Linked DNA regions of Homo sapiens. The protein of the gene in region 2 purifies or fractionates together with the protein of the main gene of each other region. This does not show direct contact. Each region holds a gene or a part of one and is shown on either strand. Other genes may lie near its edges.

The links. The genes of interacting proteins can lie anywhere in the genome.
Region 1: the proteins of VIRMA (region 2) and NUP93 purify together in Homo sapiens (affinity purification with mass spectrometry; 2 studies listed by BioGRID, with this or other methods). This does not show direct contact.

Annotation. Positions count from the first base shown.
Region 1 is NC_000016.10:56,838,129-56,841,628, reverse strand, and holds part of NUP93 (nuclear pore complex protein Nup93), read right to left. Parts: intron 2,678-3,500; coding exon 2,560-2,677; intron 2,109-2,559; coding exon 2,025-2,108; intron 1-2,024. UniProt on the Homo sapiens protein: Plays a role in the nuclear pore complex (NPC) assembly and/or maintenance. May anchor nucleoporins, but not NUP153 and TPR, to the NPC. During renal development, regulates podocyte migration and proliferation through SMAD4 signaling.
Region 2 is NC_000008.11:94,522,470-94,525,969, forward strand, and holds part of VIRMA (protein virilizer homolog), read right to left. Parts: intron 1-3,500. UniProt on the Homo sapiens protein: Associated component of the WMM complex, a complex that mediates N6-methyladenosine (m6A) methylation of RNAs, a modification that plays a role in the efficiency of mRNA splicing and RNA processing.

The sequences.
Region 1 (3,500 bases), on a different chromosome or scaffold from region 2:
TGCTCCAGGCAGGCCTGGTTGCACCACTCCTCACCATTGCCAGGTGGAGAGCCACACAGTCACCCAAAAGGAGCTGATGGCACTGAAACATCAAGTGTGAGAAAAAAACCCAAGCAATGCTGCTCAGGTCAGGTGGTTACTGTTCCTGCTCCTTTATGCTGTTTTTCCCTTAGTCAGGGGCAGTGAGCCAAAAGCATGCTGACATCTGGTTAGCATTAGGCTTAGACTGGCCAGCAGAGTGGCTGCCATTAAATAATTTGAACTTGAATGTCAGGAGGTACAGGTGCACACGCTACTTCTCCACAGTCCCTACCACTCCTCACTCTCTCAAACTCACCGGGCTGTTTCCACTAGATCTGCATGACCCTACCAGAGTCCTTGGGAGTGTCTATAAGGCCAGGCCCTCGTGTACCACTTTAATCCCTGATGCAATGAAGGATGCATTCAAGGAAAGGCCAGAAATAACAAAGGAGCAAGTGGCTAAGGGTAGAAGCCACAGCAGGTATAAAGGGAAGGTCAGCAAGGGGCAAGACCTTCTGAACTGTGTGTACCACAGCAGTCAACATCCCTCTTCATGTGCAGAACTGGCCTTACTTCTTTCTCTAAAATAGAAACTTTTTTTTTTTTTTTTTGAGACAAAGTCTCCCTCTATCGCCCAGGCTGGAGTGAAGTGGCGCAATCTCGGCTCACTGCAACCTTTGCTTCCCGGGTTCAAGCGATTCTCGTGCCTCAGCCTCTGGAATAGCTGGGACTACAGGTATGCGTCACCACGCCCGGCTAATTTTTGTATTTTTTAGTAGAGATGGGATTTTACCATGTTGGCCAGGCTGGTCTCGAACTCCTGACCTCAGGTGATCAGTCCGCCTCAGCCTCCCAAAATGTTGGGATTATAGGTGTGAGCCACCGCACCTGGCTGGAGACATTTTATAAAAGGCATCTGCTCAATGAGGAAGAATTGTAAACTGAAAGACCACTAGTGACATCCCAGAGCCAGGCAGCTGGTTCTAGAGTCTATAGTGTCGACAGCTGAGTTGAGTGTTTATAGTTCTAGAGAAGAATTTACCTGGGCCACACACTGGAATGACTGGGGGAGGTCTGGGCTGCAGCAATCAGGGAAAACAGAATCTCTGGGGTGTAGGCATGAGGGTTTTTAGAAACTTTTCTAGAGATGCCAGTATGCAGCCCAGCTGAGCACCCTAGGCTAGATGCTGGCAATATGCTAGAAACCCAACAGACAGTGGCTCTGGGGCTTATGGGGTGATAGCTTACTCCGCGGTCACTGCACTTGCGTCTTTAGACAAAATGGATTGGCTGGGCACGGTGGCTCACGCCTGTAATCCCAGCATTTTGGGAGGCCGAGGCGGGCAGATCACGAGGTCAGAAGATCGAGACCATCCTGGCTAACACGGTGAAACCCCATCTCTACTAAATATACAAAAAATTAGCTGGGCGTGTTGGCGGGCACCTGTAGTCCCAGCTACTCGTGAGGCTGAGGCAGGAGAATGGTGTGAACCCGGGAGGTAGAGCTTGCAGTGAGCCAAGATCACACCACTGCACTCCAGCCTGGGTGACAGAGTGAGACTCCTCCGTTTCAAAAACAAAAAAATCCCAAAACAGATAAGGGAGGGCAAAGGTGGCAGTGAATCATGATGTGTTTCACGTACCCAATGGAACTACTTAAAGATGATCAGAGTTAAGCACTAAAATACCCTCTAGCACAAGCGGATAATAGAAGAATTAAACCAGACTTCACAGATCAACCAGAAACCTGTTTCTCCCAAGAACATGTCAATCACTGAAGTGACTGTATTTTCTCAATTAGGAATTCAGACAATAATCTGATGGGGATGTATGCACTCACAGAAAAGCCAGGCCAAGGTATCTGAAAGGGAACCACTCTGGAAAACTCAGTCTGGATAGTTACTGTAACTAGAATTCTTAAAGCTGTTAGGTACAGGAAAAGAAAAAGCTTTTGGTGGAAGTGGGGAAAAAGGAATTCCACAACTCAGGAAGAAGGAACTTACTTCATCACTGAAATTTCTGAAGGCAGCCACTCTCTCTTCCACACTTTCCTGATTCAGGGGCACCAGCTTCAAGCGCTCAATGATCTGTTTAAAACAACCACCGGCCCCATGTAACACAACCATCACAGTCATTTCATCTCTCTACATGTAAAGTCAGCACCTCACATACTCCAAAGGGCTTCTTCATAGAAAACGCCATTCCTCCTTGTACACACAAAGGCTTTGATTCTAACTAGCTAACTTAATTCTTATCATCATTTCCTGACACAATTTTTAAAATTCTGAGATTGCAAATTACTTTGAGAAACTTCTCTGTTTTCAGATTAAAGGGGAAAGGAATAGGCAAAAAAAAAAAAAAAAAAAAAAAAAAAGCCACACAGGAAACTCCTTTTAAGTCCCAGGATTGTACTTGTCTTTCTTTATACAACAAACATACTGGCAACAGCTCCTTTGTTTTAAGTAAATTCCATGAAGTGTTTTGAATTTTCGAGGGTGTACATTAACCTGCACTTCAAACACCTTTCCTGAAACTTACATCAAAAGCTCTATCAATATGACCACTATGATACTCGTCAAAAAAGGTGATCAAGTCCAAAAGAAGATAGAACGTGGAGTCCACAAATTTATTTGCGCTTATTCCTTGAGCCCTATACCTGAAAGACAAAAACGGGGTGGGGGTAGTAAGAGTGTATCAGGAATTTCTGTGTAATCCGTAACAGTGGAATAGCATTTAAAAAAACAGTGGGGTGTGGTCGCTCATGCCTGTAATCTCAGCTACATGGGAGGCTGGGGCGGAAGGATTGCTTGAGGCCAGGAGTCAGTGACCAGCCTGGACACACAGCGAGACCCCATCTCCACAAAATATTAAAATATTAACTGAGTGTGGTGGTACATGCCTGTAGTCCTAGTTACTCAGGAGGCTGAGGTGGGAGGATTGCTTGAGCCCAGGAGTTCAAGGTTACAGTGAGCTATGACTGCACTACTGCACTCCACTCCAGCCTGGGTGATACAGGGAGACCCTGTCTTAACATACAAAAAAAATGTATAAAAAGCATCAAAACCTTCTGAGCTCTCTGGGTGAAGTTAATTAAAGAGTGTAAAATGGTGTTTATTTTGAAACAGCCAAGCACTGATAGTGGATTTGGTATGAATCCACCTACAGGTACTCCACCACATGAAGCATGGTTCTCCAGCCTTGATCATCATCTCAGCATCCAATCTTCATGAAAGGTGGGAGGTCGTGATGGGCAAAAAGCCGAGCAGCCCTCACTGGGGATTGTTTGCTAGGTGGAGATATCTCATTTACCAAAGAATGTTCTTTTTTGTTACCCCGGGAAGGCACCCCAAACCCAGTTTTCTCTGGGTCATTTTACTAGGAATATCTACAGAGAGCGCAAAAAGTAATGTTGTTAGCTTCAGCCTGGGACTTAAACTAGTTAGAAGTCTGATAATTCAGTTAACTCACTGGGGATCCAG
Region 2 (3,500 bases):
ATAGAGCCTTGCCACCACTTCAAAAACAAACCCTCCAAAGTACAATTATTTTTCCTTTCAAAATTCACTCTCCTTCCTAATTTACCAGTTTCTGTCAATAAAACCACAGCTCCAATTGCTACCCTGGCTAGAAATCTCTAGCTTCTTCTCACTTCCCTTCGCCTACTAGGTCCTGTTGCCAAGTCCTAGTACTATTATATAATATAATGGCTATTTCACAATCTCTGTCACTATAAGCACAATATTTGCCTTTCCATTACCTGTTAAGGGCAAAGTACTTAAAACCCAGTACCTAGAAACCTCAGACTATCTTATCTTCCTAGTAACTCTAATTTCTTTTCCATTGCAATACATCTTGCAACACAAAATCTGAGAATATTACTCTGATCATATCAGATCTGCTACTCCAAAATATTCAATACCTTTCCATATTCTACAAATAAAATCCAAATTCCTTAGCACAACCATTCTGGGCCCTTTATTTCCTCTTGTCTGATACCCAAATATACCTCCTCCATATGGTGGGAAAAAAACACTCAGTAAGTATTTAATTACTAGCTTCTTCTCAGTGACTGAAAACATCACCTATTCTACTAAAAATAAAGTTGTTAGTAAGAAGTATTTAAATTTCTTTACAATCTCCAAGACTACAAATGTATTATATTTGCATACTTACAAGATTCCCTTTCTCCTGCCCAAAACCAAACTCCTACACTTGTACTCTTGTCCTCATCTCCCACCAAGCCTTGCCCCAGGAATTGTTATTGTTTACTCCTACATCATAAACATCTCCCTCTCCACTGACTTTTTATTATAAATGAGTCATTATTCCCAGCCTACAAATATGCTCAAGCCTCTCCCACTCCTAAAAAATAAAAACCTTCCTTTTTGACTCCAACATCTCCTTCTAGCTGCTGCCTTGTCTCTTACTTTTTCTCTTAGCCAAATTTCTTGTTTTGAGACACAGTCTCACTCTGCTGCCCAGACTGGAGTGCAGTGGCACAATCACAGCTCACTGCACCCTTAACCTCTCAGGCTCAAGCAATCCTCCCACCTCAGCCTCCTGAGCAGCTGGGACTACAGGCGCACACTACCATTCCCAGCTATTTTTTTTTTGATTTTTTATTTTCTGTAGCGGTCTCCCTATGTTGCCCAGGCTGGCCAAATTTCTTTTTTGAGACGGAGTTTCGCTCTTGTCGCCCAGGCAGGAGTGCAGTGGCACGATCTCGGCTCACTGCAACCACTGCCTCCTGGGTTCAAGCGATTCTCCTGCCTCAGCCTCCCGAGTTAGCTGGGATTACAGGCATGCACCACCACACCTGGCTAGTTTTTCTTTTTTTGAGATAGCATCTCACTCTGTTGCCCAGGCTGGAGTGCAGTGGCCCGATCTCGGCTCACCAGAACCTCCAACCTCCCGGGTTCAAAGGATTCTCCTGCCTCAGCCTCCCAAGTAGCTGGGTTTACGGGCACATTCCACCAAAGCCCGGCTAGTTTTTGTGTGTGTCTGTGTGTGTGTGTGTTTTTGTTACTTGTTTATTTATTTTTTTGAGACGGAGTTTCGCTCTTGTTGCTTAGGCTGGAGTGCAATGGTGAGATCTCAGCTCACTGCAACCTCTGCCTCCCGGGTTCAAGCAATTCTCCTGCCTCAGCCTCCCAAGTAGCTGAGATTACACCCATGCGCCACCATGCCCCACTAATTTTGTATTTTTAGTAGAGATGGGGTTTCTCCATGCTGGTCAGGCTGGTCTTGAACTCTCGACCTCAGGTGAACCACCTGCCTTGGCGTCCCAAAGTGCTGGGATTATAGGCGTGAGCCACCATGCCTGGCCGGTGTTTGTTTGTTTGTTTGTTTGGAGACAGAGTCTCACTCTGTAGCCCAGGCTGGAGTGCAGTGGCCAGATCTTGGCTCACCGCATGCTCTAACCTCCAGGTTCAAATGATTCTCCTGCCTCAGCCTCCCAAGTAGCTGGGATTACAGGCGCCCACCACCACACCCGACTAATTTTTGTATTTTTAGTAGAGACAGGGTTTCGTCATGTTGGTCAGGCTGGTCTCGAACTCCTGAACTCAGATGATCTGCCTACCTCAGCCTCCCAAAGTGCTGGGATTACAGGCGTGAGCCACCACACCCGGCTCTAGTTTTTTATTTTTAGTAGAGATGGGGTTTTGCCATGTTGGCCAGGCTGGTCTCAAACTCCTGACCTTAGGTGATCCACCCACATTTCTTAAAACAGTGGCCTACACCATTTCAAATCCTTACTGGCCAGTGGTTTTTCATCTACACTTCCTCTCCCACTGCTACATTAAACTACTTTTGCCAGAGCCCCATTTGCAATCTATGTTACAAAATACATGATTTCCTATCCTTATCTTCTGAACCTCTGCACAGTATCACAACAAACCATTCACTGGTTCCTAAAACTATTTGCTTCCTTAGTTTCTATTCTCTCCTGCTTCTCATTTTGTCTTTCTATTCCTTCTAAGTATCCTGCCTAAATGCATTCTCTGCCCATCTCTTACATATTACTGCTCCCCAACCTCCCATCACTGACCCATTGATTTCCCAGTACACAATCTGTGAGGGTTGCCAGTATCTGGCCTCAAGTGTTCACTTTGGGCCTCTCTACCTTTCTTTCTCAGGGTTCCCCCCAAAGGGATTAAAGGGTGCTCGGACCACAAGCAGGAACAGCTCAGAAGCATAAAAGAGTTAAAAGTTTCTTGTGGGCATCCTTGAACCAAAGGGGAGAGTTGGTAGACGAATGCCCAGCCTGAATGTTTTAGGAGGATAAGCAGGAGATACACTTTAACCAGTTCTTCGGAGGATCCCCAGTAGGATGAGCCCCAGCTGTCCACAGCAATAAGTATAATAACACTTCCTTTACTGGTTTTTCTCCTTATCTTACTCTCTTCAGGCATTTCTGCTTCCTAGGATAATCTTTCAAAGAACCTGCACCCAAGACTTTGACTCAAGTTATCCTTTTAGGAAACTCAAAACTAAGACAAGGTGTAACAGTTTCAGCTAAAAACAGGAACTTGGATAAGTGGAGGTTTTAGACTGGACACATATCCCATCCCCTGGGAATGCACTATGCTCCATCCAAATCAATGAAAATATTAATCACAAAAATAAGTAATAAAATAATTCAAATGCCATTTTTCCATTTTTATGTTAGGAAATTATTTACAGGCAAATGGTAAGAAAGAAAGTCTCAAAACAAAATAAAAAATCTACTAGGGATGCTGGTCCTAACAATGGCAAAACTGTATCAACAGATGAGAGAGGTAGATGGCAGAAACAAGTAGTAATGGAAACTTAAAGACATCTTTAACCAGCACTGTAAAATTAAGCTAGTAAAATATAATTTTAACTTACAATGTATTAAGAGTAGTAAGTACAGATGGGTTCACACAGAAGAGCTCTCCTTCCTACACCATTCCTTTGTTACCACCTTCCCAGAAGCAAGTCAGCAGTTTCTCATTTATTCTTGCTCATAGACATG